2 separate regions of the Homo sapiens genome follow, and region 2 is linked to region 1. Evidence: fine-mapped expression QTL. A gene starts in region 1. The other region holds a variant in brackets. All regions are shown on one strand. Distances are between the middles of the regions. Region 1 holds the start of GPATCH8 (G-patch domain containing 8). Region 2 overlaps GPATCH8 (G-patch domain containing 8).

Region 1 (5,377 bases):
GAGAGGGTTCCTATGTTCTTTTGTTGGAGAAGTCAGACTCTCTGGCCAGAATGGAGGCTTTACCATATCCTCCCATTTTCAGCATGGTTGCTCCTTCTCACCTATAAAGTCCAGTCTCTCTGGTTCAGCCTTTCCAGAGGGAAAACCTCTAGTTTGCTACCTGGGTGGGAAAAGAGACATCGAATCATCAGTGGCACCAGGGGCTTCTACTTCCTGAGCCTTTCTGGTGCACTTTAGCATTGATCAACTTCTTTCCTGTCTTCTCCTACTCTATGACTTCTTTTTCTCCACTCTACTAAAGTCATTTCCATTTATCTGTGCTCTCTGGCCTCCAAAATGTTGACATCTGTTGTCTGCCATTGTCTCTTCTCCAGGTCTCTTTGTCCATGTGAATTTATGCACTTCTTATTCCTCTGCTGTCATTTCAGTGGGCTTTTGAGAGGAAGAAGAGGTCAGTGTGATGTGTATCCTCGTGATTCAATCTTTCACGCTACCCTTAAGTCTCTTTACAATGTTTGAGCCAGGCTCGGTGGCTCACGCCTGTAATCTCAGCACTTTGGGAGGCTGAGGCGGGCGGATCACAAGGTCAGGAGTTCCAGACCAGCCTTGCCAACATGGTGAACCCCGCCTCCACTAAAAATACAAAAAAAAAAAAAAAAAAAAAAGTCCGGGCGAGGTGGCTCACGCCTGTAATTCCAGCATTTTGGGAGGCCGAGGCAGGCGGATCACGAGGTCAGGAGATCGAGACCAGCCTGGCTAACACGGTGAAACCCCGTCTCTACTAAAAATACAAAAAATTAGCCGGGCTTGGTGGCGGGCGCCTGTAGTCCCAGCTACTCGGGAGGCTGAGGCAGGAGAATGGCGTGAACCCGGAAGGCGGAGCTTGCAGTGAGCCGAGATCGCGCCACTGCACTCCAGCCTGGGCGACAGAGTGAGACTCCTTTTCAAAAAAAAAAAAAAACAAATGAGCTGGGCTTAGTGGTGGGCGCCTGTAATCCCAGCTACTAGGGTGGCTGAGGCAGGAGAATCTCTTGAACCTGGGAGGCGGAGGTTGCAGTGAGCCGAGATTGCGCCACTGTACTCCGGCGACAGTGCGAGACTCCGTCTCAAAAAAAAAAAAAAAAAAAGAATACAATGTTTGAATTCTGTGTGCCCTGCCTCCCCTTAGATGGAAGCGTAGGCTGAAGCATGGGTGGGGCAAAGGGTAACAGCTAGAAAATACACACCCTTCCTCAAAAAATTACATTCCATTTGACTCTTTCAGGGCAGGGTAAGACCCATTTTTCCATTGTGTGATTTCTGTCAACTACTCTTTTCAAAAGGAGAGAAGTCCTGCCACCCTTCTATGTGTTTTATGTATTTTGGCTAAGAGTCCTGGAGCACTGGGTGAGGTCCTCAGAAGGGATGGAAAAATCCGATTCTTGACTCTCATAGTCAGCGCTAGGCAGGAGCATCAGAGATTACTGAATCCAATTTCCCTATTGTATAAAAAGGAAACTGAAGCCCAGAGAGCTTTAGTCGATCTGGATCAACTTCGGTCCCTTGTGAAATACTTCTCTCAAAGGATGGCTCGAAGTCAAGCTCCTTGCAGTCTTTGGGCCTTTGGGTCTAACGTTCCCTATGCCCCAATGCTGTAGGCTCCTCGCTGTGCCTCGGTCAAAGGTCCTTTCAGAGACTGTCCCTCTCAGCACTGTGGCCAGTTTTACTTTTTTGTGGCACTTGTTGATATTTAAAAATATTTATTTTACGAGTTATGTGAGTTCTTCCACTGGAATGAAATCCCCATAAGAGGAGATCATTCCTGTCTCGTTCACCGTTGAATCCTCAGGGTGAGCTGAGATTCGAAGCTAAGCAGTCTGGCTCTAAGGTCGCGCTTTCGGCCCAACATTATGCTGCTATTTAGTGAAGACGATGGACTTCTGCGCACACGGGGAAGCAACAGTGAGAAAAGACACCCGGAAGTGAGCAACAGCAAAACATCCAGATTTGTCCGCACGGTGCCCCCTCTGACCTTTCCCTCCGGAAGCTCTCGCGGCTCTCGGGCGGGAGTGCGCACGCGCGGCCACCGGGGTCGCTCCGGGTCGCGCGCGGAGCAGGGGCTAGAGGGAAGGGTCAGCCTCCAGGGCTGGCAGGCGCCTGCGCCGCGGGGCTCCCGTCAGGACGCGCATTCTCGCTCCCTCCCTCGGCTGCGCGCGCCCGGTGGGCGTGGGAGGAGGCGGGGAACCGGGGAGGGGTGGGTGTCGCAGGAGGGAAGGAGCGAACCGGAGAGCGTCGTCCTGAGAGGAGTGAAGGCGGCAAAATGGCGGACCGCTTCTCCCGCTTCAACGAAGACCGAGACTTTCAGGTAAACACGGGCGTCGCCGAGGATGCGGGGAAGGCGCTGGTCTAGCCCAGAACCTCCTTCATCTCCGGCTCCCAGCCCTCTTTCCTTCCAGTTTTGCTCCGACTTGCGAACCAGCTCGCTCTTCTCCCGTCTCTGCTTTCTCAAGAGGCCTCCCGGCTTGAGGGAGGCCGCATCTCCTCGCACCCGCATTCTCTTACCCCTGAAACTCAGGCCGCGGGGCTTGCGGCTTCCGCCTGTTTGGCATCGGATTTCGGAACCGGGCCTGAGCGCCGTGTGAGGGGCTGTGCCCTCCAGGTCTGCCCGATCTGTGCCGGCGAAGGGCTGGCTCCCAGGGGACAAGAGGGGTGGTTGGGTTGGGCTGAGAGGGCTTGGGGGAGAGTATTGCTGAGGCCAAGGCTTCCGAACCCCGGGATTTTGCTCTCACGGATCCTTTTGGGGTCCTTCTCTTTTCTTTCTTCACTGTGATAAATCAATTCCTTTCATTGTCTGCTTTTCCTCTTCCTTACCTGGGAAAAGGTTGCCTTCGCTATCAGACGCCTTATTGGTTAGTCATACATTGAGATTTCGCGGGGCATAAGTGTTGCTGTTATTAGGCTGTTAATTGGGCTTGGAAAGCAGTAAGTTACTGGACTATGATCCGATGTGAGCCTAACCTCAAATCCTATCTCGAAAGATTTGTGAGAAGCGTGATGATAATAGGCCGTCCACGCATGGGGTCACTAGTGCCAAAAGCTTGATTTTTCTTTCTTCAATTGCAAATGTTAGTATGGAAAAATGCCCTTACGATGGCAAGCTCTATTGAGTAAAAAATAAAGGCCAAATTAGAATAACTTGTTTTTTCGCTGTTGAAAATACCTTTCTGTTGAAATTGTTACCGCGGAAATCTCGAAGACTAAAAGGGATTTAGTAGAGATTGGCTATTTCTAGGTAAAATACATCCGTAGAGTCTCAAAAAAAAAAAAAAAACACTGCATTACTACCGCATATCCTGGCAACTGCAATTTGGGTCGGGATGAATCTCAGAACTCAAGTTTTTATCCCGCTGCAGATCCTACTCAAAGCAGTACGAAAGCACTCTAGATGTGTTTCAGAAGGCAGTTTAAAGAGTTTGAATTCCCTGAGATGATAGGATTGGTAAATAAATAGGTAAAGCAGTTTAACAATTTTAACTCAGCACTGTTAACAGTCTAGTACATAGAACGCTTATGAGAAGTTTTGCAGCAGTAAGGGATCTGGGGGCTGTTAAAAAGCCTTGTGATCATGCGCCTGCTGTATAGCTGCAGCACAATACAGGAGAGTCTCAGGATGTTCTAAGGATATAATGCAGATTCACCAAAGTTTGAAGCAGTTCATGTTAGCCTTTTGATCCCTGAGAAATATATATATATACACACATATATATATATTAGCAAGCACTATAAAATATGAGTTGGCTGCAAGGTGTATGAGCTTTATTGATTTTTAAATTACCGGTAGAGACATACTGATAACTAAAGCCCGCAAATGCTTTTCAGAGGAGAGAATAATCTCAAGGTGACCTAATAAAATCGAAAATAGATAATATGGACAGTTAAGTTTTGAGGGAAGATGACTGTCAACCACAGAATTCCAGCAGGCTTAGCAAACAGGATTTTCAGGGCCTTTAATGAAGATTTTGAAAATTGTGGATAGCAGAGTGTGAATGCTGTTTCCTGAAAAACATTCAGGGGGTTAGCCTGTACTTTTTCAATACTCAGTTTCCAAGTAAGATGACCCTGTCTTCTGATGCTTTAGTTGGGTATTGCAAAACCCGATTTTGGTTTCATGGTAGTCCTTTGAAGATGATACGTATACTTCATTTTCTGCTTATATGTTGAAAGAACCAACCCCTGTTAAATTGGGTCAGCCAGGAAAAATTTTTTTTTTTTTTGAAATGGAGTCTCGCTGTGTCGCCCAGGCTGGAGTGCAGTGGCACGATCTCGGCTCACTGCAACCTCTGCCTCCCGGGTTCAAGCAATTCTTCTGCCTCAGCCTCCCAAGCAGCTGGGATTACAGGCACCCGCCACCATACCCGGCTAATTTTTGTATTTTTAGTAGAGATGGGGTTTCACCGTATTGGCCAGGCTGGTCTCGAACTCCTGACTCGTGATCCGCCTGCCTCGGCCTCCCAAAGTGCTAGGATTACAGGTGTGAGCCATCGCGCCTGGCCGAAAATGTTGGTTTTTAAAATTCAGATGTCCTAGCATTTTGGGTAAATAGGGTATTGGGAATGGAAACCTTTTTAGACAGTTGTAAGATGTTAAAACTTTTATAAATTATGTTAACATTTCTAAAGTACATTCATTGAAAAATAAAGTGGTATTTTTCTAGATGTTTTAATAAAGGGAAAATACAGATTGACTTTCATTTAATGATGTATTTTGATTCAAAATTATTGGTGAGAGAATGTAATGTAATAGGATTCTCCTGTGAATAATGTATCTGAAACATTTTCAGCTTCAGGTTATTCAAAATTAAACGTGGCCTCCTTTTAAGGTTTTGGGTGAAGCCACTGACTATACTTGAAAACAAGTCATAGTAGGTTTCCAAACACAGTGGATAGATCTTGTTGCTTTCAACAGATCTTGTAGCACTGGAAATTGTTCATCTTCTCTGGTAAGTTCGAGATGACTTATTTTCTTTGCCTTTAATTTAGCAGGATGATTTAAAGTTGTAGAACTTCACTCTTTACCGGTTTATCAAGTGCAAATTTTGGAGAGTTTGATGTCTCTTGAAATTATTATGGAGTGAGGGAGTTGGGCTATTAAAATTTGTGAATACCTAAAGTTGCGAAGGTATTTTGTATATATAGTGAAAAGTTATAGTTAACAGTGGTATGCCACTTGAAGCACTCATGTATATAGAGATTAATAATTATCAGGGACCTAACTTTTTTTAATTGGTAACTTTATTATAATAACAAACAGGTCCTATTCCACAGGCTTTATGTGTCTTATCTCATAGTCTTCACTATAACCCTACGAGGTAGGTACTGTTATTACTGCCGTTTTCAGC
Region 2 (5,377 bases), 67 kb after region 1:
TAAATCCCTGACTGAGACGTTATGAAAGTGATATTGCACCTAGGAAGTCATTTTTATAACCTGTCTTTAATTTGGTCCTTTTGCTAAAGATTGCAGTCACTGCTTATTTATTATACCATTGGGCATAGGGTAGTAATGCATTTTCATTTTGCTTTACTGGCAGTCCTTTGATTGTATCTAAAAGAAGGCTGTATTCTAGAAGTTGTTGTTTTGTTTTTTTTTTTTTTCTGACATGAGATGTTCTTTAACAGTTTGGGTTTGGTTTTTTTGTTTTGTTTTTTTACTGTGATAATTCTAATTCTCCCTATTTATTGTTTAAAAACAATAATAGGATACATAAGTAGTTAAACTTATGAATTTGTTTTTCATTCCATCTTAAAGGCAAAAATTAATTCCACAAATATAGAGCCACCGAGTACAAGTGGTTGTGGTCGTTTTGAACATGGTTTCTTCTTTATTTTGCAGGACCAAAACCAGTCATGATCATGGCATTTATTTTTTAAAAAGTTTTTTTTGGGGTTGGGAGGGTAATGCCTCAGATTTAGCCTAAGAAAACTCCATTTTTAGCCCAAAGGTATAATATATGTATATATATATGTGTGTGTGTATAACAACAACAACAACACAACCAAAAAAACCAATTGTTTACACCAGCCTGAGTGAAATGATGAGGGAAGTAAACATTGTGTTTTTTCACTAAAGGTGTACAACGGATAAGGTAAGTCCTCTTTTCAGTGGGCTTACATCACAATAAAAAGCGCAGGTTGTGATGTAAAACAGCTGTGGTAGTAAAGTGCTTGTCTGCCCCATTTTGCTTTGTTTGGCTGGTTATGAGTGGATTAAATATATATTTATTAAAAAAATTATCCAGCATAGATCAATTAGTTTAAAGTCAATTTTCTTCGCAACTAGTCCTTTTCACAGCTTACCAGTTACCCTCGCAGCCAGTGTTAAATCCACTCTAGGAAATGGGACTTTAGAGCACCAGATTAAAAGGAAAACTATTCTTTTCTCTAAGGGCAACTAATTGTTTCTTTTTATTTAAACTTTTCACAGCCCCATTAAATTGTAAAGCATCTCCTAGTCTATGAGGAACATCAAAAAAAATTGTAAAGCATCTTTTGAAAACAAATTCAACATACTGAGTTGTAATTATAAAGTTTTACTGCATCATGTTTAAAAATGTACTTTTTCTATTTAACCATGCCAGTTGAGATTTTTTTTTTTAAACTAGGTTAAAAAGTTGTGTAGGAGGATATCAGTGGGCAGAGTAAAGTGATACTTGATGGGAAGTTATTTGGGGATCTTAAAAGGAATTTTTAAAGTTTTACAATTTAAACCTCCTGATGCCATTGCTTAAAAGTGCTTTGCATTACTTATTAATGTAATTTTGCCATAGTAATTTGAAATTAATCCCAACTGGACGTCAGCCAAGGTGGTTAATTGGGTTTAAACTAGGAAAGGAAGGTCTTGAGTGTAAGCTGTGAGAATGGCTTGTGTTTGGTTCACTGTAGCTTTCTGGTCTCTGCACTCCAAGGCAAGATCTCTAACCACCCAAAACCCAATGTGTAAAATGAGCTGTTGGTTTGGCTTTGCACCTTACCTTGATTATGTGTTCCTGTTACAGGGAGAACAGATCCCATTCCAATCGTTGTCAAGTATGATGTCATGGGCATGGGTCGCATGGAAATGGAGGTAAATTGATCTCATTAACTCATAAGTTTTGTGAGATATTTTGAAATAATACTAATTCCAAATTCAGATGTCTGTGCAAGAATACATTTATCAGATGAAATGTAGTTTTAATATTTTTCTTTGGATGACTAAAAAATATATTTTACATTTTCATTTAGTGCTACTTTTGAGACAAATAGAATATAAACAGAGCTGCTGTTTTAACTGGCACATAAAGAAGTTAAGTGATTTGCCGAGGGTTATACAGCAAGGCAATATCAGACTTAGATCCAGACCTTGGTACTTGCTTCAGTAGGCAGTGTTGCTCAGCTCTTAAAATGTTGCTGTGATAAAAGCTTTGCCTTTGTAGAATTGGGTACGGCTGTCACCTGTAATACCTGCTTTTCATTGCCTAAAATATTTTCTTCATTGACTCCTAATTCCTTTTTTTTTTTTTTTTTTTTTTTTTGAGATGGAGTTTCGCTCTTGTTGCCCAGGCTAGAGTGCAATGGCGCAGTCTCGGCTCACTGCAACCTCCGTCTCCCGGGTTCAAGGGATTCTCCTGTCTCCTGTCTCAGCCTTCTAAGTAGCTGGGATTACAGGCGCATGACACCATGCCCGGGTAATTTTTGTGTTTTTAGTAGAAACAGGGTTTCATCATATTGGTCAGGCTGGTCTTGAACTCTTGACCTCAGGTGACCCGCCCGCCTCGGCCTCCCACAGTGCTGGGATTACAGGTGTGAGCCACTGTGCCCAGCCTCAATTTTCAAAGAATTAGGAGTCGCTGGGCGCAGTGGCTCACGCCTGTAATCCCAGCACTGTGGGAGGCCGAGACAAGCAGATCACCTGAGGTGAGGAGTTCAAGATCAGCCTGGCCAACATGATGAAACTCCATCTCTACTGAAAATACAAAAAAAATTAGCAGGGCATTGTGGCGGGCACCTGTAATCCCAGCTACTCAGGAGGCTGAGGCAGGAGAATCACTTGAACTCGGGAGGCAGAGGTTGCAGTGAGCGGAGATCATGCCATTAAACCCCAGCCTGAGCAACAAGAGTGAAACTCCATCTCAAAAAAAAAAAAAAAAAAA[G/AG]GAAAGAAAGAAAAGAAAATTAACATTGAAGTGAAGTCTACTTTCAACAAATGTGCCTTTTGGAAACTACCAGCCTGAAAGTAACAAACTATTTTGCATGTGATTTTCTCTGTGAGGTGACAATAAAGCAAGCAGTAGCTAAGCAAAATTACAATTTTTTTTTGTTTTCAGATAATACTGTAGTTGTGCAAATAACTTTTTCATAGCTAATCTTGGGGGTACTTTAGGAATTAAATCTAATCATATCTATTTTTGTCAAGCTTGATTATGCTGAAGATGCTACCGAACGGCGCCGTGTCCTAGAAGTAGAAAAAGAAGACACAGAAGAGCTGAGACAAAAGTACAAGGTATTTAAACAAAGCTATTCATTGGGAGATGGGGAGGTGCTCACTGAATAAGAAAGAACTCAAATTTTGTTGAAAATCATCACTGTTGCTAACAGCATTTGTTTGACATTTGGTGGTAATTAGTAGTAGATCTCAGATTTCTATTACATTCCTATTTATTGGCTCTGTATAAACTATAGAGATAATAATACCTACTTCTAAAGTGTGTTAGAAAGATTACATGAATTAGTGTTTGAAAACACAATGCCTGTTACATAGTAGGTATTCAAGTAGTGGTAGCAGTAAAAATTGTTAAAAGTCCTTTGAGGCCAGACACAATGGCTCACACTTGTAACCCCAACACTTGCAGAGGCCAGACACAGTGGCTCACACTTGTAACCCCAACACTCAGTAGAGACGGGGTTTCACCATGTTGGTCAGGCTGGTCTCGAACTCCTGACCTTGTGATCCACCCGCCTCGGCCTCCCAAAGTGCTGGGATTACAGGCGTGAGCCACCACGCCAAGCCTAATTTTTGTGTTTTTAGTAGAGATGGGGTTTCACCATGTTGGCCAGGCTGGTCTTGAACTCCTTGCCTCAGGTGATCTGCCTGCCACGGCTTCCCAGTTTGCTGGGATTTCAGGCGTAAGTCACCGCGCTTGACCCCCTTTCTTGTTTTTGAACTTAGCTTAGCTATATATTAAATTTTTGTGTGTTTTATTTTATCCAGAACTATAATATAACCAACTCATCTTCTTTTCCTGCCCCTTTTTCTTTCCCCTTTTTCTTCTCCTTTCCTCTCTCTTTATTCACTCTTCAGCCTATTTATACTGACTTTAGCAGTTTTCACCAAACCACTTTATTCAAGGCCACCAAACACTTCTATTTGCTAAATCCAATAAATCATTTATTTATTTATTTATTTTATTATTATTATTAATATTATTATTTTTTTTAAAGACTGAGTCTCACTCTGTTGCCCAGGCTGGAGTACAGTGGTGTGATCTAAGCTCACTGCTCCCGGGTTCAAGTGATTCTCGTGCCTTAGCCTCCGAGTAGCTGGGACTACAGGTATGAGCCACCACGGCCAGCTAATTTTTTTGAATTTTTGGTAGAGATGGGGTTTCACCATGTTGGCCAGGCTGGTCTCGAACTCCTTACCTCACGTGATCTGCCCACCTCGGCCTCCCAAAGTGTGGGGATTACAGGCGTGAGCCACTGCGCCTGGCATACTCTTTCTTCTTTAAAACATTTTCATTACTCTTGGTTTTGAAGAATTTATACTTTCCTAGATTAGTTGCTTCTTATCTGTCTTGCTGCTTCTATGTAGATTCCTTTGTTGGCTGCTGTTTATTCTGCCTGAACTTCAGATATTGGAGTTCCTCAGCTTCAGACCTGGGCCCTCTTTTTCTGGCTACATTCTTTCTCTAGGCACAAGAGTGGTCATGACACCATGTTTCATCATCTTTCACTTGGTTAAATTTTCTCCTTTGGGTTTTAGCTTAAATATTACCTCATTATAGATCTTCCCTAATCAACTCATTTAAATAATTAACCACTCTGCCTTATTCTCTTGCAACAACCTCTCTTACAATTTGTAATTATAAATTTTTATTCACTAATTTATATTCTGCTTTCTGTACTAGTCAGAAAGGGCATTGAGGAGAGAGAGTATGTCTATTTGTCTGCCAGTATATATCCTGCATCCAGCACAGTGTGTGGTGCATAAGTACTCAATAAATATTAGTTGAATGAATAAATATTTTGAAATAGTGAGAAAAGCCAGATTCATTTTATGTACTGTCTGAAATATAAACATTATAAAGAATACATTTTTATTTTTCAAGTAAAAGTTACACTGTCGAGTGAAAAATAAATGAAATACCTCAGTAATTCACAGCCTCATAAGATTATACATAGTATCTTGAGATGCTCTCTCCCTGGTAATAGAATTATTTCTCGGCTGGGTGCGGTGGATCACGGCTGTGCTTTGGGAGGATTGCTTGAGCCCAGGAGTTTGAGAGCAGTCTGGGCAATGTAGCAAGAATCTGTCTCTACAAAAAGAAAAAAGAAAAAAAATAGCTAGGTGTTGGTGGTGCATGCCTATAAATCCCAGCTACTTAGAGAAGCTGAATTGGGAGGATCACTTGGGCCCAGGAGTTGAAGACAGCAGTGACCTATGATCACACCACTGCACTCCAGCCTGGGCAAGAGCAAGAATTACTTTCCCCATCTTATTGATCAAAATATTTACTCCGAAACCCTGTCAACTCTGAACTACACTGTTTCTA

What was found. PIP is the estimated chance that this variant, and not a neighbour inherited with it, causes the effect. A credible set is the group of variants that fine-mapping cannot tell apart.
Region 2: its variant is the best candidate, but not a certain one, in a credible set for the expression of GPATCH8 in whole blood (INTERVAL, PIP 0.55).

What each region holds. Positions count from the first base shown.
Region 1 is chr17:44,500,293-44,505,669 of GRCh38, reverse strand. GPATCH8 (G-patch domain containing 8) reads left to right here and starts at 2,264. Exons shown (of 8, transcript NM_001002909.4): 1 at 2,264-2,344. The coding sequence starts at 2,300. RefSeq lists a silencer at 1,981-2,330 and an enhancer at 2,431-2,530.
Region 2 is chr17:44,432,796-44,438,172 of GRCh38, reverse strand. It overlaps GPATCH8 (G-patch domain containing 8), which reads left to right. Exons shown (of 8, transcript NM_001002909.4): 4 at 1,628-1,695; 5 at 3,022-3,108. Among named protein-coding and RNA genes, the nearest start is that of ITGA2B, 46 kb to the right of the region's middle. The variant G/AG (reference allele first, on the strand shown) is at 2,762.